Regions from separate parts of the Homo sapiens genome. Here region 1 is linked to region 2. A link means that fine-mapping ties the variant in region 2 to the expression of a gene that starts in the linked region. Tissue or cell type: nucleus accumbens. Region 2 holds a variant in brackets; the other region holds the start of a gene. All regions are shown on one strand. Distances are between the middles of the regions.

Region 1 (10,688 bases), 100 kb before region 2:
TGCCAAACACCAGAAGGGGAGATAATAGTTTTGACTCTGAACTTGGCCACAACCCCTGAACTGATCCCAAAATCTGTGAAAAGATTTGAATCTGATATCTCCACCAAAGCCTTGATGTTTTCTCTGTACAGCTAAGTTTTCTGATGGAATCTTCATCTCACCCCATTTTCTTTTTAACCTCGCCCCCTTTTCTACAATCAAATCCATTCATTATTGCGCCCTCCAGGTCCCCTCCTTTTTGCAGAAGGTGTAAAAGAGCTGCCCTTGGTGGGTGCCCTGGGCATGTTGCAACGCCTGCTGGTGCCCTTCTGTCTGTCCACGTCTGCCTAGGGCTCAGGAGTGCTTGTTCTTTCCCTTCCTCCCTGTGTTTCTCTTTATCCTGTCCCCTCTCCTTTCTCCTGGCAGCAGAAAAGGAAGAACACAAGAGCAAACACACAACAATGATGGTGGCAAAGTACCTGTATATAGCCCTTTCCCATTTTTTGCATTATGTTCTTAACTCCTTAATGTGGAATTTTCCAGCAAAATGTTTAACTCAGGTGTGATTTTTGAAAATGTCTCTGTAATATTTTATCTTCTTTAAAAAAAAGGGGGGGAAATACCAAAGTGTGAAATACTGTGCTACCTTCCAGAGTTCCCACATGGGCTGGGATTTTTTTTTCTTTTTCTTTTTTTTTTTTTTTTTTGAGACAGTCTTGCTCCAGCCCAGGCTGGAGTGCAGTGGCATGATCTTGGCTCACTGCATGCTCTGCCACTTGGGTTCAAGCGATTCTCCTGCCTCAGCCTCTCAAGTAGCGGGATTACAGGCGCCCACCACCAAAAATTAGCCCAGCTAATTTTTGTATTTTTAGTAGAGATGGGGTTTCACCATGTTGGTCAGGCTGGTCTTGAACTCCTGACCTCCTGATCCACCCACCTCAGCGTCCCGAAGTGCTGGGATTACAGGTGTGAGCCACCGCGCCTGGCCTGGGCTGGGAATCTTTGTTGACTTCTTTGGGAACATTATCTCTAGAGTCTGCTTTTTTGTGGGCCAGTTTGTAGAGATGTAACATGAAGCCATTCCAGAAATGGTAACTTAAAAAAAAAAAGACTACATGTCTAGGAAACTGTTGAGATTCAAAGGAATCTCACTGTTCCTAAATAAATGTGTATAGTGATTATGAAAAGTATCCCACTGTTGATAAGAAGAGGTTTAGATTCTTGTTCTGTGCCTTTTTGTTGTTGTGGGGGGCATGTGAGTGCATATAATGAAATGGGATGACAGAAAATGTTTCAAATTGGGACATTAAGTGTATTACTCCCCAAACTGATGCTAAAGATGACATATGTTATTACAGGGCCCTGAAGAATTCAGAGTTGTTACTCTCTGTAACATAACTACCTTGAGGGCAGAGTAGGCCAGAGATATTGTAAGTGGGAGGATGGTGAATGTTTAAGGTGAAGTCATTTGAAACTTAAGAGGTGGGGACTGAGGCTAATGTCTCATGTCTCAGATACCCTGAACGGCAGTTGTTCATTACTCACAACATAAAGCAATAAATAGTTAAGGCAGAGGGTAATTTAATAATCACATATTAGCTGGGCTTGGTGGTGTATGCCTGTAGTCCCAGCTACTGAAGAGCCTGAGATGGGAGGATCTATTAAGCCCAGGAAGTCAAGGCTGCAGTGAGCAATGATCATGCCGCTGCACTCCAGCCTGAACAACAGAGTGAGACCCTGTCTCAAATATACATATTTGTCTCATGTATATATATATATATATATATATATATATATATATATATATGGCTTCAGAATGCATTGTGACTTTTGGTTAGGAGGTTGAAAGGCAGCAAACCTATTCTTGTGTTTTTTCTTAGATTAATACAAATTTAAATAGTTACCGTTGGAGCCTGCAGTGAGCCAAGATTGTGCCACTGCACTCCGGCCTGGGCGACAGAGCGAGACTCCGTCTCAAAAAATAAAATAAGTAATAAATAGTTACCATTACTGAGATAAACGCTGACCTGTGGGAAAGAGAGGCCCTTCAAAAATGTAATGGCTGATGGGGAAAAACTAAAATTAGGATTAAACACTTCTTGCAAATAATAATATCCACACAGGAAACCTAAATATTAATAATGAAGAGTTAACCGCTCCCTGATGTTTGAATGGGGCTTTAAAAATTCCTATTTCACGTCATGAAGTGGGAGAAGGCCTAATGGTAATGTTTACTTTCTCAAGAAAATATCTAGTTAAAAGGGGCCAGGTATGTAGCAAAGAGACAGCAAGAGGAGCCTTCCGCAGTACTTTAAGTAACTAAGGGGACTGCTCCACCACCCATGAGCCCATCTGTGCATATCTCTGCACACATACACATGCATGCATGCATTCCTCCCTGTATGCCCATGGATGCTAGAGCTGACCCTTTTCTACAGAAGTCCTGGCTACCTTGACATCCTACTCAGGTGAGTGCTGAAAGCTGATCCTCTGCATTGTCCAAAACTTGGATTTTCATCCATTTGCCCGTGATTTTTTATGAAAGAAATAAACAGAATTGTAGCCTGTTCAGACTCCAGTAGCTTTCCTTGCCAACTAACTTGGACATTGCTGAACAGAATCAAGCCTGAAAGTGAGCAAGGTCACCTTTCATGTCTGCATGATTCTGTAAAATCTGTAATTCCAGGGAAGTTTAACTGAAGCTTGATTCGCCGCCTCAGCATCTAACTAGGGACAAGAGAATCTGAGGGCAACCACCAGTCATTGCCAAGGGAGGAAAAAAAAAAGATTGTTGTTGCTACATTTCAAATTGTATTTTTTTTTTTTTTGACATGGTGTCTCACTCTGTCACCCAGGCTGGAGTGCAGTGGCACGATCTCGGCTCACTGCAATCTCCGCCCCCCAGATTCACGCCATTCTCCTGCCTCAGCCTCCTGAGTAGCTGGGACTACAGGCGCCCGCCACCACGCCCAGCTAATTTTTTCTATTTTTCAGTAGAGACGGGATTTCACCATGTTAGCCAGGATGGTCTCGATCTCCTGACCGCGTGATCCGCCTGCCTTGGCCTCCGAAAGTGCTGGGATTACAGGCGTGAGCCACCGCGCCCAACCGAACTGTATTTCATACTCTGATGTTTAGTTGACTCAAAACGGGTGGGCCCAGCTCTGCCCTCCTAAGACAAAGTAAGAACTTTTGGTCTGACTCAGAGACTGAGTTTATTAACCCTAGGACTCAAAGCAGGAACCCTGGCCGGAGCTCCCAGGTTGCCAGGGTTCCTCTTGTGCTCTGTGTGGCCCCACCATAGCTCACCTGCTGACTCTTCTGCCTCTTCCTTCTGTGGGGGGAACTCCTTGCAGTTGAGGCTTTTTTTTTTTTTTTCTGTATCCCTGTGGCTAACATTGTGACTAGCACATAACAGGCAGTTATGTTTTTTAAATATAAAATTCCCTTTTTTTCCCTCTAAATTTTTAATGCCCTTCACTGAGATAGGAGTTGTGAATACAGCAGAATACAGTGCAAACCTGCAGGAATTTTTAGGTAAGTGGAGGCAGCATATCACAGTGGTTAAGGGCATTGTCATGCCAGACCCCTATTGACTTCAGGAGGGATAGCACCAGATTCAAGAGGCCAGAGACCAAGAGCCAACAAATGCGACATAGGGTTTGTTGAGGGGAACTTACATAAGAGGGATCCGGTGGCAACAGGCTGGACAGGAGAACCACCACTGCCTGCAGAAAGCACGCAGTTTACATGGCACTCTCATCTAACACCCTCCCGCTAACAACCTCCACCTGGCAACCTTCATTTACCCCAAAACAAAGGGCCTCAGCCCCCTGTATGGCCCATGTTCCAAGGGCTGGGCCAGGGGCTCAGATGTTCCTCATACATAAGGAATAATCTCTGGGTTGGCCACGCTTGGAACACTAGACACACATTCAGGTGTGTCTGCCACACAGGGTCATTCTCAGGTTATACTTAAGTTACCGCTGTCAGGTGCATCTGCCATACAGGCGTGATCTCCAGAGTCATATTGCCTGGGTTTGTACCCTACTCTGCCTCCTACTAACCGTGTCATCTTGGGAAAGCCTTGACTGCTCCATGACTCAGTTTCTCACCTGTAAAATGGAGATAACAATAGGTCCCATCCCATAGAATTGTTTGTGAGGATTGAGTGTGTGTATATATATATGTGTGTGTATGTGTATGCATATATATGTGTGTGTGTGTATACATATATATGTATATGTGTATATATATGTGTGTGTGTGTGTGTATATATATATATATGTAGTGCTTGGAACAATGCCTGGTACATTAATAAGGGCAGTATAGGTGTTATTTGTTATTATTGTGATTATTATTCTCATTGCTATTAAATTGGTGGAGAGCTTCCTGTCCCCTGCTCTCCTTAACAGCCCAGAATTTCTGGGGGATGCTACCGGTGACAAGGATCTGATTTGGTGGAACAGGGATTGTGGCCAAAGATACATACATCAACAAAATTTAATCCTAGGTCATGAAGCTTGAACCTAGAATCCCAGTCACCCTAGGATAAAGGCCCAATATTTTAGGAAGAACTGGCTCCTTCCCTTTTACCTTACCCCCTCAGCCTTTAGGCTCCTGAAGGCTTTAGTACCCTACTTTTGTGGGAAATGATGGCAGCAAGAAGAAAGTCCAGATTCAGATACTAGAAAAAAAATACTGCAACAAAACAAATGGGGGAAAGGGTGAGCTCTGCATACTCTCCATTCAGTGAAGTGGAGCCTTCCATGTTTTACTTCTCCAGACTATCATTACCTGTTATCCGGTCTATCCTAACACATGTGTAACAGGCCTTCTGCAATTCATCTTACACTGATTTTAATTGAGTATTGCTAGAGCTGGGGTTCTCAACTTTGGTTGCACATTGGAATCACCCAGGGAGCTTTTAAATTGATTGATATCTACACAGAGATTCTGATTTACTTTTTTCGGAGTGTGCCCTGGGTATTAGGATTTTAAATAGCTCCCAAGTGATACTACCATGCTATCAAGATTAAGAACTACGACCCAAATGTGTATACGAATCACTGGGGAACTTGTTAAAATGCACATTCTAGTTTGGTAGGTCCAGGGGTAGGTTCTGAGATTCTGAGTCTCTAATGAACTCCAAGGTGATGCAGATTTTGCTGGTCCATAGACCACACTTTGAGTAGCAAGGGCTTGGAGAGCATGATAATATGATTCCCTTGTTCAATAACATCATGAGCTTCCACATAATAAGCTCTCTCAGCCTGGCATCTTAGGCTGGCATCAGAGGCATTTAAGGACTCTAACAGCAATGGTTATCAAATGTGATCGTCTGAATGACTCCTGGGCAGGTTTTAAAAAATACAGATCCCTGGACCCCATACCAGACCTAATAAATCATAATATTCAAGGTACAGCCTGCACAGGGTATTTGAAAACACTTCCCAAGTGGCATAGTTGATCAACACACTTTAGGAACTGTGATATGCTTCCAAGATAGTTTCCCAGGCTCATTTCACATTAATTCAACATACAAACATTTATTGTACCTGCCTCATGCTAGGTACTAGGGAAACAAAGATGAAACCAGTGCCATCCTTACCTTTGAAGAGTTGGTAAGATAAATGACCAAAACTAGAATATTTACTATTCCCCAGGCACGGCCTAAACACTCACACCTCTGCTAACGGTCTTCTCCTTTGAGAATGTCTAGGTTCCTCAGCACCCGGGATTGCCTGTCCTGATCAATCAAGACAGACACCGTCTTTACCCCATTCGAGCCTCCATTCTTATCGCTCAAACTTACTCTGCTTGGTATTAAAATAGAACCAGAGAAGAAAAGGATTTACCCAAAGTGAAATAAAACAGTTGGTATTTATGTAGTGACTTCCATGTGCCAGTCATTGTTCAAAGCACTTTACACATGTAATATTTTAAAATTCTCAAAATAACCATATGAGATAGGTGTTATTACTATCCCCATCCTCAGGATCGAGGAAAGGGAGGCAACAGAAAAGTAACTTGCCCAAAGAGGTACCAAGCAAGGTTCACTTTCAAGCCTTATGCTTTACTGTCAAGTTGGTTACAGGGCTGACTGGAATACTGTAACTTCTAATTCTCAGGCCTGAGCACTTTCCTGCTCATCAATTCCTGTTTCACGACTTAAATTCAAGCACGAGGGCAAGAACGATGTCTTACATCCCCCACAATGCCTAGTAAGGGTGCAAGTACTTAGTAGGTACTCGATAAATTGATTGGATGAGCTGTCCCATTGAGGGGAGGGGAGAAGTGGATAATGATTTAAACAAACAACAACAGCTAAACAAGAGCAGCGGCCTCCAGGTCTCACGTCACCGCTAGATCCCTCTTGACCCCCCCGCCAGAGAAGGAGGACCCTCCCGCGCCCTTTCGGAGCGTCGGTGGCCCGGCTCCGGCTCTGCGCTCCATCCTCCCAGCCAGCAGGTGCCCCCAGACCCCCGGCTCCTCCTCCGCCGCCGTCACAGCCTCGTCCTCCGCCTCTGGCTCCTCCGCTTCCTGTTGCCGCGATCCGGGCCGGGAGCTGCGGGCGCCCGGGCGCCCGAGGCTTCCCGGTGCGCTCCGCCAGGTAACCGCTCGGCGCGAACTGCCCGGCCGGGGTGGGCACGGGGCCCGCGCGGCCCATTGGTGGGGAAGGAGGCGGCAGAGGGCCCGGGCTCGCCTCCGAAGGGGAGCGGGCCTCCTCCTGCCTCGGACGCCCGAGGCCTTCCTGCGCCAGGCTGCGGCGCCAGCGGGATGCGGGGATAACGGTGCCTGGCTCCGGCTCTTGGTCCGGGCGTGGCCGAGCGTCGCAGGCACCGCCGCGCGGAGATGCGATCGCCGTCCCTGCGAGGCCCCGGGGCCCGCGCTCGCCGCCAGCCACGCCTGCTCCAAGGCTCCTCCTCGCCAGTCTGGCCCTGGAACGGGAGAAACCAGGAGAGGAGCCTTGGACCTCTGAGCCGCGATGGCCTTCCAAATGCCCTTCCGTTCTTTGGCAAAAACCAAGAGCAAAAAGCCGAAACCCACACAGGGAGTTCCCAAGGTCACAGAGTTGTGTCTGCCATTTACGAATGTCTGTTCTTTTATTTAAGTGTTTGTAAATGGGCTACTGTTTTCTCTGTTCTGCCAAGGAATTAGGATTCAGAGAAGAAGACTCTAAAAATACTAATAGGCATATCCAAATGAGCTGATCCGCATTACTGGCCAGTGACCCTGGCCTTTAGAAGGAGATAAGGGAGGGCAGTTCTCTTCACCTGGGATACTTTGTATTTCTGGCCCTTACTCTGAGAATTGGCCTTGATGTTTTACAAAGTTTATCTCAGAACTCCATGTCAGAACTGGACCGGACTGTAGAGTTCTTCAGTCCTAGTCTCTTTCTTTCCTTTCCCTTCCTCCCCTTCCTCTTCCTTCTTTTCTTTTCTTTAATTTCTTCTTTTTTTTTTTAACTGTGGTTCTAGAGGTTAAAGTGATTTGCCCACACTCTTATGGCTAGTCTCTCTAGGGACAGAGACAGAATTGGAACCCAGGTCTATTATGGACACCTACGGTTTTCTTGAATGGAAATCTGATTTCAGATGAAAGCTGTACAGAACTTGACCTTCATGAAGCCCTCTCTGGATAGCATTCTTGGGAAGTGGCTTGTGTATTGACGTCCACAGATAACTATTTCACTGGTCAGAATAAGGTTAAGCAATAAGCATAGCCATGCAGAAAATGTCTGCTGAGATGAAGTAGATATCTGATATGTTTTTGACTTTTTATTTGTACGTTTCAATGGAGGAGCTAATGAATACTAACTAATAACAACATCTTGCTCATTTAGATTTTAGTCCTGTGTGACTAAATTGACTCAGTTATAGTTGTTCTTGTCCTAACGTATTTGTCACCAGTAAAAGTTCCAAGGTACAGCTTTCTGGCTTCATTTCATTTTTAACTGAATAATTGCCTTAAGGATATTTTTAGATCTCAACAAAAACTCCCCTCCTCTTGAACCTTAGAATCCTTCTGCTTCACTCTTGGCAAATCTTTGGGTCGGATTTCAGAACTGAATAAAGCCAGGATTTCCCCCCAACCTCCAAGATGTCTGGACTCTTTGTTTAGTTCTGTATTTAAGTTTATCCCAAGTTTTGTTTTTGACTGATGAACCTGTGACCCAAATCCAAACCTCAGCTGAATTTAGTATCAGCTTAAAACCACATTAAACTGCCATGTGTCATGTGACCTCTAGCAGAAACCAACGTGGCAGTGTTCTGTTTTTTCATGAGTGCGTTTCATTGGGGTTTTTGAACTGTGAAGACATTATTTAATACATGTGCTTTATTTTCTGTGTATTATTGCCCAAGGTCAGTCATCGCTAGAGGGTTATTATTGACATTTACTCATCATAAAATGTGATGTCAGCCTACCAGCTCGGAGTGCAGTTCCTGGTTTCCAGTTTACAACATTGACCAGTTGCTAACATGTTATCTCTGAGGAACTTGGAATGATAAATACAGCCATACTTAAATAGAAGATTCTTGGCCGTGTAGATAAGGAAAATAAGATAAGGCAATATTTTTGAACTATTCTATAATAGAAATGAGGATATATACACAAAATGACCCAGTGCTGTTTTCTTAGGGTGCATCCTTTGTTTTTCTGGTTTTGGTCTTTTCATCACAGGATGGCATTAGCTCTGTGTCTGCAGGTGCTGTGCAGCCTGTGTGGCTGGCTCTCGCTCTATATTTCTTTCTGCCACCTGAATAAGCACCGAAGCTATGAGTGGAGCTGCCGCCTGGTCACCTTCACCCATGGAGTCCTCTCTATAGGCCTCTCCGCTTATATTGGCTTCATTGATGGCCCATGGCCTTTTACCCACCCAGGTAGGTAGGGGATTTTCCCTTAGGGATTTATGATTTGGGGGTAGTCTTAGAAGTATGGGACTTTTAAACAGAATTTGTACAATACTGAAGACTAATTCCCATTATAATTTTGTATTGGAATCCTTATTCTTCTTCATTGTTAACTCTGATATTGTTTATGTCACCTGTTGTTTCTGCTTTTCATAACTCTCTACTTTTAAAACAGATTTTAAATTGCTTGTTACAATTTAATTGGAAATACAAAAACTATAAAGCCAGTATCAACATCTTCCACTACCACCCCCGAAAAGACAAAAATAGAACTGTATCATACATATTTTTGGCAACTTGCAACTTTTACTTGACTGTCTATTCAAAAGACAGCATCTTTCCATGTCTATGTTAAGAGGATGAGATGTTCCTTATCCTTTTTGTTACTAGATGTACAAGTGTTACTTTCAGAAGTATGCAATTTTTTTTTTTTTGAGATGGAGTCTTGCTCTGTTGCCCAGGCTGGGGTGCAGTGGCTCAATCTCAGCAAGCTCCGCCTCCCAGGATCACGCCATTCTCCTGCCTCAGCCTCCCGAGTAGCTGGGACTACAGGTGCCCGCCACCATGCCCAGCTAATTTTTTTTGTATTTTTAGTAGAGATGGGGTTTCACTGTGTTAGTCAGGATGGTCTCGATCTCCTGACCTCGTGATCCACCCGCCTTGGCCTCCCAAAGTGCTGGGATTACAGGTGTGAGCCACCGCACCCGGCCAAGTATGCAAAAATTTTACCCCCTTGTATTAATTGGTTGGGGCTGCCATAACACAGTACCACAGAGTGGGTGGCTTAACCAGATGTTCATTTTCTTAAAATTCTAGAGGCTAGAAGTCGGAGTTCAAGTTGTTAGCAGGTTTGGTTTCTTCTGAGGCCTCTGTCCTTGGCTTGCACATGGCCGCTCTCCCACTGTGTCCTTCCATGGTCTCCCCTCTGTGTGTGTGTGTGTGTATGTGTGTGTGTTTGTATATGTATGCATATCTGTGTCCTAATCCCTTCTAAGGATAACAGTCATAGTGTGTGTGTGTGTGTGTGTGTGTGTGTGTATGTTTATGTATGCATACCTGTGTCCTAATCCCTTCTAAGGATAACAGTCATATTGTGTGTGTGTGTGTGCGCGTGTATGTTTGTATATGTATGCATATCTGTGTCCTAATCCCTTCTAAGGATAACAGTCATAGTGTGTGTGTGTGTGTGTGTGTATGTATATGTATGCATATCTGTGTCCTAATCCCTTCTAAGGATAACAGTCATAGTGTGTGTGTGTGTGTGTGTGTGTGTGTTTGTGTATGTTTATGTATGCATATCTGTGTCCTAATCCCTTCTAAGGATAACAGTCATAGTGTGTGTGTGTGTGTATGTGTTTGTATATGTATGCGTATCTGTGTCCTTATCCCTTCTAAGGATAACAGTCATATTGTGTGTGTGTGTGTGTGTGTGTGTGTGTGTATGTATGCATATCTGTGTCCTAATCCCTTTTAAGTATAACAGTCATATTGGATTACTCTAATTACCCCATTTTAACTTGATTACCTCTTTAAAGACCTTATTTTCAAATACACTCACATTCTGAGGTACTACCAGTTAAGGGCTTTAACGTGAATTTGGGGAGGGAGGACACAATGCAGCCCTTAACTCCCCTGGAATATAATTTTTAAAATATTTCTTTAGCTTTTCTTACTGAATTTCTGAGTTTCCCCCCAAACTGTCAAACTAATGAAACCAACTGTTACGCTTTGTGTTTTATGTGAAGATTCTAAATGGTTTCAAATATGTCAGGTCCTTAAAACCTATGTTCCTGG
Region 2 (10,688 bases):
TGACAGAGTCTCGCTCTGTCGCCCAGGCTGGACCCGCCTCCCAGGTTGGACCCGCCTCCCAGGTTCACGCCATTCTTCTGCCTCAGCCTCCCGAGTAGCTGGGACTACAGGCACCCGCCACCACGTTCGGCTAATTTTTTTGTATTTTTAGTAGAGACAGGGTTTCACTGTGTTAGCCAGGATGGTCTCGATCTCCTGACCTCATGATCCGCCCTTCTCGGCCTCCCAAAGTGCTGCGATTACAGGCCCGGCCTGCCTTTTCATTTTCTTACCAGTGTCTTTAGAATAGCAAATGTTTTAAATTTTTGTCCAGTTTCCTAGGTTTTTTTTCTTTTATGGTTTATAAACCCACCCTAAGGTCTTTTTTTAATGTTATAAAATATTTTGTTACATGTATTTTATCTGTTTTCTTTTTCTTTCTTTCTTCCTTTTTTGTTTTTTTAATACCCTAAGGTCTTGACGATTTCCTTTTGTGTTATCTTATGAAAAATTTTAGCTTATGTTTAGGCCCATGATCTGCTTTAATTTTTGTGTAGGTCATGAGTTCAAGGGTTAAGGTTCATGTTAAGCTACAGTAGGCTCATGTACTCATGATGTGTCATTATCAGCAAAAATAGATATGTATATACACTGTGTGTATATATATATAATTTGTTATATGTATATGTTTTCTATGAGCCATTGTACACACAGTCTATATATATTTTTTATTAACATATCTTTAGCATATCGTTTGGTTGGTAAATCAGACTTATATTTAAAAGATTGTGGCTTTTTGTATAAAAATCTTTAGAAAAAGTTTTTATTTTCTATTCATTATCTTTGTGTTGTTTTACCTGTTTTATATATTGACTTCGGTGAAATGCTTAGATCCTGCAAAGCTGAAAATATATGTTGTCTCTGGCTAACACAGAGTTCAAGATCTTCAGATCTGGTCTATGATAAAACAGCCCTGGGTACTAATCAGGGTTCTACCCTGGCAGGACATTTCTATTCCTCTGGCTGGGGCCCTCTTTCTCTCACCTTGCCCTGACAGTTTTCATTTGCTGTTTAGAAGAAACACAAATTCTCCCTTAGGAATCAGGTAAGTATATGAAAGAGATGAAGGAACTGGTTGAGCTCACAGATTCTTTATCTTTTCTATTTTTTTCTCTTTTCTGTTTCTGTTTTCTATAAGCCAGGGTTTTTCTTCCCCCTGAACTCTTCCTTTCTCTTCCCTTCTTTGGGGAATAACTTCAGGTACTCTGTAAGCACCTCCTTTCTTTTTACTGTTTTCCTGAGTATATTTTCTTGAGAGTGAGACTGGATTTCTGCAGAATTTTCCTTGAGATGCTCCTAGCCCCATGTCCTAAGATGGTTGATTTTTCTTGGGTTAAACACCAATTAGGGTACCAAAAACTCAGGGCAGTGGGGCAGGGGGAGAATTTTTTTACTACAGAGAAATAGCATGGATGTGAATGGGCTTTCCTTCTAGCTGTCTCATGTCTAATACTTAATATTTTGCAGTTTGCCATAGCTGTTTTTAATATTGGAGCAATTCTATTATACTCCGCCAGTGAGAAAACAGTATGTGTGACTCTGTGGTGTTCTTGTGTTTGCTTTGTTGATGGTGGTTAGTGTTCTTATTTTACCATGTGGATTTACATGTGCTACTTTTTGTTTCTCCAGATGGAACACAGTTTATTACTAATATATAATTATTGTCTTTTCCTTTCTCTGTTTTCTCTTCCTTCTTGTTTTACACTGTGGTTCTTGTGCAGGTCTTGTTCAGCGTTGCGTAATCATCCAGAAAGATGACAATGGATTTGGGCTGACGGTCAGTGGAGACAATCCAGTCTTCGTACAGTCTGTCAAAGAAGGCAAGGCATTTTAAAAAACAATTTATCACTCAGTAAACAGAGTAAGAATAGAAAAGCTTAAATAATGGCAATTGCCAAGAATAGAATAATTACATAGATTGCAGGTCATGTGGACTATTGTGCTAGATTCGTCTATCATGTCATAGTTACAGGAAGGAGTTTACTCCAGTTGATTTTTTTTTGTACTTGTTAGAAAGAAATCAGTTTTTATTTAGTTTTAGAAATCATGTGACTCCTTGGTCATGATACTTTATTGTCCACACAAAAGTTTCTGAAATTTCAGTTTTCCATGGCACCACTGATATTTTGGCAAAGACAGATTAAAGAGATAGCTATGGCTTCAGAAATACCATTTATTTTCCCAAAACAACAGTGATAATATTTTCTACTGCTGTTACCATATATTGAATACTTCCTTTATGTTGGGTGCTATAATTTTGAGGTAGACAATTTTTTTATCCCCATTTTATAGGTGATATTGAGGCTTAGAGTAAAGAAACATCAAATCAGTCCAAGGTCACACAACTAGTGAGTGGCAGAAGCAGCATTTGAATGTAAAGTCTGACTTTACAGCCTTGTTTTTTTTTTTTGTTTTTTTTTTTTTGGAGATGGAGTCTCCCTCTGTCACCAGACTGGAGTGCAGTGGCACAATCTAGGCTCACTGCAACCTCTGCCTCCTGGGTTAAAGCGACTCTCCTGCCTCAGCCTGCCGAGCAGCTGGGACTACAGGCACGTGCCACCACACCCAGTGAATTTTTGTATTTTTAGTAGAGACGGGGTTTTACCATGTTGGCCAGGATGGTCTCGATCTCTTGACCTCGTGATCCGCCCGCCTCGGCCTCCCAAAGGACAGCCCATGTTTTTAACCAGTTTGTTATACTGTCTCTCTGTCAGGAAGATGATCAGTAAATGCAAATGAATCACATTTTAAGCAATTAATTTCTCATACAGATGGAGCAGCCATGCGGGCTGGAGTACAGACAGGTGATCGAATCATCAAGGTAAGGAATAGGCTATTATAGAATTTACGGTAGGATTAAAAAACAACATATATTGGTCATATTCTGATTTTTTTCACTTGGATTTTTATAAAAAGCATCATACTTCTATGTATGATAGATCTGTTGACTATACAAACTTATTTCATTTGTTTTAAAATTAATACTACCCTTTACTGAAGGACGTAATAAAAGGATTGAAAATAATGGAGGAATATATGTTCTTGAGTAGGAGAGTAATTCAGGGTTGGAAAGATCATTTCTGTCTAGATTAGTCTGTTATTAAGCAATTCTCATCAAAGTACAAGTTGAACATTTCTAATCTGACACCTGAAATGCTCCCAACTCTGCAAGTTTTTGAGTACCAACATGACACCATGAATGGAAAATTTCACACCTGACCTCATGTGATGGGTCACAGTCAAAAGTTGGTTTCACCAGGTACAGTAGCTTGAGCCTGTATTACCAGCTACTCAGGAGGCTGAGGTGGGAGGATTGCTTGAGTGCAGGAGCTGAGACTGCAGTGCACTTTGATCATACCTGAGAATAGCCACAGCACTTCAACCTGGGCAATATAGTGAGACCCTGTCTTTACAAAACAAATAAAACCAAACCAAAACAAAAAACTTGGTTCCATGCACAAAAGTATTTAAAATGTATAAAACTACCTTCAGGCTATGTGTATAAGGTATATATGAAACATAAAAGGCTCATATTTAAACCTGGGTCTGATCCCCAAGATGTATCATTATGTATATACAAATATTCCAAACTTCAAAAAAATCCAAAACACTTCTTCTGGTACCAGGTATTTCAGATAAGCGATACCTGACCTGTATGCAAATAGAATTGTAGTGGTAGATGTCTATCTGATTATTCTTCCAGATGAACTTTATAAAGATATAAGAATCACTAAAGATAAAAACATGTTATATGTATGTGTATGTATGAGAAGAGATGTATATGACTCTAATCTAGATATAGACCTACCAGTGGAACACAACAGAGAGACTAGAAATAGATTTTGAATTCAGATCAGTAGAGAAAGAATGGGTTAGTTAGTAACTATTCTTTAAATAATTGACTAATTTGATTACTTAAAATCAAATTATTACATAAGAAAACATACCATGAAAAATAATTTGGAAGAAATATCTGAAACGTATCACAGACCAGATATCCTTAAATTTAAAGAACACTTTTAAATTATAAGAAAGGAATAAATATTCTAAAAGAAAAATGGGCAAAGAATTTTATCAGGCAGTTCCCTAAAGTAACTGAAATACATAACATATTAATGAGGATATGGCCAACCTCACTGATAACAAAGAAGAAGAAATTAAAATGATAGGTGAAAAATACATTTGGCTGTCAGAAAATTTAAAGATTGGTAATACACATTTAGTATAGTTTGGGTATGGTAAAATGACTATTCTCATGAGTTCGTTGTGAGTATAAATTAGGTAAAACCTGTTTGGATGAAAGTCTGTGAATATGTATCAAAAGCCTTTAAGAAAGTATATAACATGTGACAAGCAATTTTGCTTTTAGGAACTTATCTGAGGAAATAAGTGTACAAATGTGAAGTCGTGTGTACAGGGAAATTTGTACTGGCTTTATTACATAACTGTGCATAAACTGAGGGACAGAGAAATAAATTATATTCCATTTGCAGCTTTTGAAAAGAATGGATTAGGTCAGTGTGTATCTTTATTGAAAGATAGCTGCCGTACAGTGAAAAAAAAGTTTTATTTTTTTTTTCCAGGAAAAAGCCAGTCGTAATGTATAATGTTTATGTGTCTCTTTGGTGTGTGTATACTAGAAAAGTGTCTCCAAAATTAAATGTCATAGCTAACAGTAACTGCCTCATGGGGCAGGATGAGTATACTTGTACTTCTGTTTTTTACACTGATATATTTGTATTTTAGATAACTTGGATCAGAGAATTAATCAGAAAATTAATGTTAAATCCACATTTGATAGTTTTGCCTTGATTTGTTTGGTTTAATTCAGAATCGGGATAACATTTTCTACATTTAGCCGGTCTGAAAATTAATTTTCTTTGTGAAGATTAGATCATGGTTGAAAAACTAAAAGCAAATTGAATATTGTGGAAATACTTATTTTAAAAATTATTTTTTATTATTAATTTTGACAAATTGATGACTTGGTAATTAAAAGCAAAGAGATCTTTTCTATTTGTATGAGCCCTTCACCGTGAACGATTTGTAAATCTGTTTCATGTTATGTTTTGTCATTTGTCATGGTGAATAAGTTGTACTGTTTTGTATGTCAAGGCCTC[G/A]GTTTATGTTTAAGTTCATTTTGTTGCTGAATATGCCCTGTAGAATCATGGTGTGAAAATGAATATTGAATCAAATACATAAATATTTTAATGTAATGTGATTACTATATTATATTGGTTATATTATGTATGATAATTCTTGAAGTCATTTTATCCATTGTCTCAATAGAATGTATCTGACATACACTACTTTCGTTTTCTTACAGGTGAATGGAACTCTGGTGACTCATTCAAATCATCTGGAGGTGGTGAAGCTAATCAAATGTAGGTGAATGTTATTCTTAGTTTTAATTGTTTTCTGAAACCCTTAAAGTAAGGAGCAGCAAATTTCCTGTAATAGGCCAAATAGTAAATATTTAGGCTATGTGGACTATATAGTCTACTGCCGACTCTGTCATTGTATCATGAAAGCAGCCATAGACTATATGTAAATGAATGGGTGTGGCTGAGCTTCAGTAAAACTTTATTTGCCAAAAGTCTGTGATCCTGGTTTAGCCCCTTGGCTGGAGTTTGCTGATCCCTGCATTGAAGGAAAATCTGAGGTGAAAACTCTTAGCTTACTAATAGCTATCTTTTGTCAACTCCATTTATATGGTTGATTATAATATTCCTGTCATTCTTGGTAATATTTGATACATATATTTGAAAGAAATGCATGAGTCACCTGAGAGGAAGGAGGTTGAGAAGTCAGACATATGGCCTGATGAACTGAAATGGAACTTTAAAAATCATCTAGCACAATCACTTTCCCTCAGATAAGTAAATGATTATATAATCCAGAGTAGCGATCTTCTCTTGGAAATCTTTAGGGTTAAGAATTTGTGATCTTCAGGTTTGAGTGAATAGCCCACTTGGACTTAGTTCTCTGTGGAGAAACAGGCTTGAAGCAGTGGGAGTCTGCAGCTAACCTCCCGTCACTTGCAGGGTCAAAGGTGGATTCACGAACCTCGAGCTGGCAGTGAGTTATGGGCAAGCCAGGCCTCAGCCACTCACAGGGCCTCAGTTTTCCCATCTGCACAGGGAGAAGGGAAGGTTCAGTGGCCCTGTGAGCTTTGCTAGCAGGTGGTGATGGGGTGGGTCATCTGAATCTGAGTCAGGTGGAATCTTCCCCAACCTGGGCTTTGGTTTCATTTTGTTGTTATCCTTTAACCTTACCTGCTTTCCAAGAGAGATTTTATGTTTTCTTGGTTTTTTTTTTTTTTTTGTTTGTTTGTTTTTAGGGTAGGGTCTTGTAGAATGCAATGGTGCAATTATAGCTCACTACAGCCTCCAACTTCTGGGTTCAAGTGATCCTCCCACCTTGTTTTTTGTTTTTTGTTTTGTCTTGTTTTTTTGGTAGAGACAGGGTTTTGCTGTGTTCCCCAGGCTGCTGTCAAACTCCTGGGCTCACCCATCTCAGCCTCCTAAAGCGCTGGGATTACAGGCACGAGCCACTATACCTGGCCAAGATTTTATATTTTCTAATTGCTTCACATACTGAATGGAAAATAGCATGACAGTTATAACAGAAGTAAAGAAAGTCACATGAGAGTCCACCACCTAAAATATAACTTCCTTTTTCTTTGTTCTGGCCTGGTTTGGGCCGTATGTATTTGTTATTGTATCTCTTAAAAAAAAAAAAAAAAAGAGAGAGACTGCTTGAACTGAATGAAATTTTTTTAAAAAAGGAATTAAAAAAAGAATTTATGATCTTCTGCATCAGATTATTCCACAGTAAAGTAGACTAGAAATAAGAGATAGTTGTTTGTGATCAATCAGAATCACTACTGTTTTATTTAATTCTGTTTCTCTGTATTGGGTGGATGGACATCTTCAAAAGAAATTTAATAAACTAACTTTTTTCTTGGCCTTTTTACTGCTATGTTAAGCAACTATGAAATTTTTTAAACTTTTTCATCAGAGTACCAGTGCTCCAAATGGTCACTTTGATCAGCGTTCTTTAGTTTAAAAGAGTGCAGTGATCAAAATTAGATCCCCATACTTGAATAAACTTGACCACTTATTTAATGAGAATGTGATTTATAAATTGTTATGTGCTGCATAAATATGGTTTATGTTAATGAGTTTATGCCTGATGTCCATTGAGGTGTATAAAAACATTTCTTTAGCTTTCTAGGTTATATTTTTTGCTCATTCCAGTATAAATTTTACTTAAAAAATTAAATCCTGGGATTCTAGCAATAAATTACTTACCCAATAGTAAGGGCATAGCTAAAAACTTAAAGTAAAGCATAAAAACCTCTGCATATCCAAAACTGATGTAAATTTGACATCACATCTGTAAAGCCTGGGTGTATGTAACAGAGTTCCTGCATGTCCTACTTTCTAATGTGTATTCTGGATATAATAAAAGTGATATCAAATCAGAGCAGTTTAGAAACAGCTAAAGAAAGGAAGGGAAAAGCTAGGAAGCTATTAAAACCAAATACATAGGCAAGTGAGATATAATAGATGACTTTCTGATAGAGAGCAATAAGATTGAAGAGCCTTAGAAAGTGTTTATATGTAAAATTCCTCCAAATTATAACACTTGTGAGTATTATACATAGCAAAACTAGTTTTTAGAACACCAAAACACTGTGAAATAATTGATAATGATTTCCATGGGAGGGTTAAATTGGGAGACAAGTGTGAAATACATTTAAAAGTTCTATTGAAATATCTAAGAAAAAAGTTTTGCCATATCTATTACTGACTCTGATTATGGTGTTTTTTTTTGTTTTTGTTTTTGTTTTTGTTTTTTGAGACGAATTCTTGTTCTGTCACCCAGGCTGGCGTGCAGTGGCGCAATCTCGGCTCACTGCAACCTCCGCCTCCCAGGTTCAAGTGATTCTCCTGCCTCAGCTTCCCTAGTAGCTGAGACTACAGGCATGTGCCACCACGCCCGGCTAATTTTTTGTATTTTTAGTAGAGACTGGGTTTCACCATGTTAGCAAGGCTGGTCTTGATCTCCTGAACTTGTGATCTGCCTGCCTCAGCCTCCCAAAGTGCTGAGATTACAGGCATGAGCCACCATGCCTGGCCTGATTATGGTGATTTTTGCTGTCTAGATTCCCGCCCCCCGCAATATGTCTACTGAATTCCTGTCCATTCCTCCAAATATTTTCTACTAAAATTTACTACTTATTATTGATTGTGTTTTTCCCTGTTATTGTGGAATATTTTTTGGTCATACTCATTTTGTAAAGTTAATTTAAAATTGCATTTTATGTTCTAGCATATTCACTAAACCCTGCCTAGTTAGTGTCATCTTAAAATATGAAGATCTAGGCCAGGTGCTGTGTCTCACACCTCTAATCCTAGCACCTTGGGAGGCCAAGGCGGGTGGATCGCTTGAGCTCAGGAGTTTAAGACCAGCCTGGGCAACATGGCGAAACCCTATCTTTAAAAAAAAAAAACATTGCAGCTACTTGTGGGGGCTGAGGAGGGAGGATTGCTTGAACCCAGGAAGTCGAGGCTGCAGTGAGCTGAGATCGTGCCGCGGCACTCCAGCCTGGGTGACAAAGTGAGACCCTAATTAAAAAAAAAAAAGAAGATTTAAAAAATTTACATTTAAGAAATTAATTAAACATAGCCACTAATAGATGGTTGATTTTAACACTCCTCTAAATAAAGAAAATATATAATATATTCTTGGAGTTATAAATTTTATTTGCTTTTAAGTAATATCTGATCTTACTAGTAGTAACTTGCTATCTGAAAACGGCATCATTCTTTTGGATTTTTAGGGCAGTCATAAAAGAGAAATGACAAATTAGTTTTTTTTTCTGTGGAGACATGATGTAGCAGATGATGGGACTGTCTTACATAACTGGATCTTTTAGAACTATCGAAGATTAAGTAGTAAAATGGTATAAAAAGTTTCTTGACAATGTTATTTTCCCTTCCCTTCCCTTTTTCCGTCTCCCCACCCCAAGCTGGTTCCTATGTAGCTCTCACTGTTCAGGGACGCCCACCTGGGTCGCCCCAGATTCCACTTGCCGACTCTGAAGTAGAGCCGTCAGTCATTGGACATATGTCTCCCATCATGACATCTCCTCATTCACCTGGAGCATCTGGGAATATGGAGAGAATCACTAGTCCTGTGCTCATGGGGGTAAGAATGGGGAAATTTCTTAGTTAAATGCTCAGTCTTATAAGGATGTGTTTACTTTATATGGAGAGTTTTCAAGTATTCGGCTGATGAACTAATTAAATTTAAGATTTTAGAAAATGATTTACTAATATAAAAATTACATAATAGGAATGATTAGAATATTGTCATAGCAGATTTAATTTAACAAGTATTAGACACCTGCCATATGTAAAACAGTGTGCCACCCACAGAAATATAGTTAAGGTACTCTATGTTCAAGATTATAGTCATCTTAGAATGTGTACTTTTAGGAGGGCGGGGATTTTTGTTTATTTTGTTTACTGTTACGTTTCCAGTACCTGAAATATTGCTTAGCATGTAGAAGGTGCTTAACAAAGCTTTGTTGATTGAGATTAAGTCAAGAGTATACAAGTAACTATAATACAAGGCAGAATGTAGACATTATGAGGGCAAAAAAAATGCTAAGTTCTATGAGGATTCAAAGGAGGGAGAAAGCACATAGAAGAAGAACAATAAATAGAAGGAGCCAAAAAAGCATCAAATATTGTGGAGAAGTAGCTAGGATTTTTGGTTGGTTGGTGCCTGTTAAGGATGTGCATAGTGGGAGATGAACTTGAAAATAGTAGGTTGACTATATATTTTGAAAAGTCACATCTCCCAAGCTAATTTACATGTAACTAGATAAGCAGTAAGAATCCATTCAATGTTGTTTCTTTTTAAGCAAAAGAGTACATGATTATCCTAGGATTATAGGAAGACTAATTTGGTAAAATATTATAGGGTTGTGAAACAAGGAGGGATGATGGGTGATGAATTAGGGAGCTGTCTTCATATTTCAGGTAAGAGGTACTGGGAGTTTGAGCTATGCATGGGGATCGATAGTAAAGATCCAAATGAGGGAAAGTAAAAGATACTATTCTTATACTAAGACAACTTCATTTCTCCAATATCAATATTTAGTGTTCTCTTGAATCCAGTTTAGTAAAAATGAAATAGAAGGGCAGACATTTCCTTGTAGTTTCTTGTAAGTGTCATGTCTGAAAGCCTGTCCACATAACCCGGAAGTAAAAACCTAATAGGTATTGATAATTGGAGCCGAGGCAGAACTTTGTATGCCACATTTTCTCTATTTATTTTAGCTTCATTTTGTCTATACTGGTTGTTGTTTGTTTTTTATCTTTTTCTTTTCTAGGAGGAAAACAATGTGGTTCATAACCAGAAAGTAGAAATTCTGAGAAAAATGTTACAGAAAGAACAGGAACGGCTACAGGTATTAAATGAGAAGTAGGGCTGTTTACAGGCCAATAAAAATGTGAGTGGGCATGGTTGAGTTGGTGTTTATCAGTCACAATCAAGCAGCATTGTAACCAATGCCATTAGTTATATTATTGATTAAGAATGGACTATTTCTGTATCTTTTTTACATAAGTAAT

Alleles and levels. Alleles are on the strand shown, and positions count from the first base shown. SD is a standard deviation of normalised expression in the study named.
For the expression in nucleus accumbens of the gene that starts at base 6,523 in region 1, G is the low allele of the variant in region 2 and A is the other (small effect, 0.25 SD a copy in GTEx).

The links. PIP is the estimated chance that this variant, and not a neighbour inherited with it, causes the effect. A credible set is the group of variants that fine-mapping cannot tell apart.
Region 1: it holds the start of TLCD5, and the variant in region 2 is the best candidate, but not a certain one, in a credible set for the expression of TLCD5 in nucleus accumbens (GTEx, PIP 0.54).

Annotation. Positions count from the first base shown.
Region 1 is chr11:120,318,777-120,329,464 of GRCh38, forward strand. TLCD5 (TLC domain containing 5) reads left to right here and starts at 6,523. Exons shown (of 3, transcript NM_001198671.2): 1 at 6,523-6,592; 2 at 8,665-8,864. The coding sequence starts at 8,666. POU2F3 (POU class 2 homeobox 3) reads left to right here. Exons shown (of 13, transcript NM_014352.4): 13 at 1-1,169. RefSeq lists silencers at 3,936-4,095, 6,468-6,757, 6,828-6,887, an enhancer at 6,132-6,276 and a cis regulatory region at 6,204.
Region 2 is chr11:120,418,993-120,429,680 of GRCh38, forward strand. It overlaps ARHGEF12 (Rho guanine nucleotide exchange factor 12), which reads left to right. Exons shown (of 41, transcript NM_015313.3): 5 at 1,761-1,859; 6 at 2,811-2,860; 7 at 5,366-5,423; 8 at 9,077-9,255; 9 at 10,448-10,525. Among named protein-coding and RNA genes, the nearest start is that of GRIK4, 87 kb to the right of the region's middle. The variant G/A (reference allele first, on the strand shown) is at 5,160.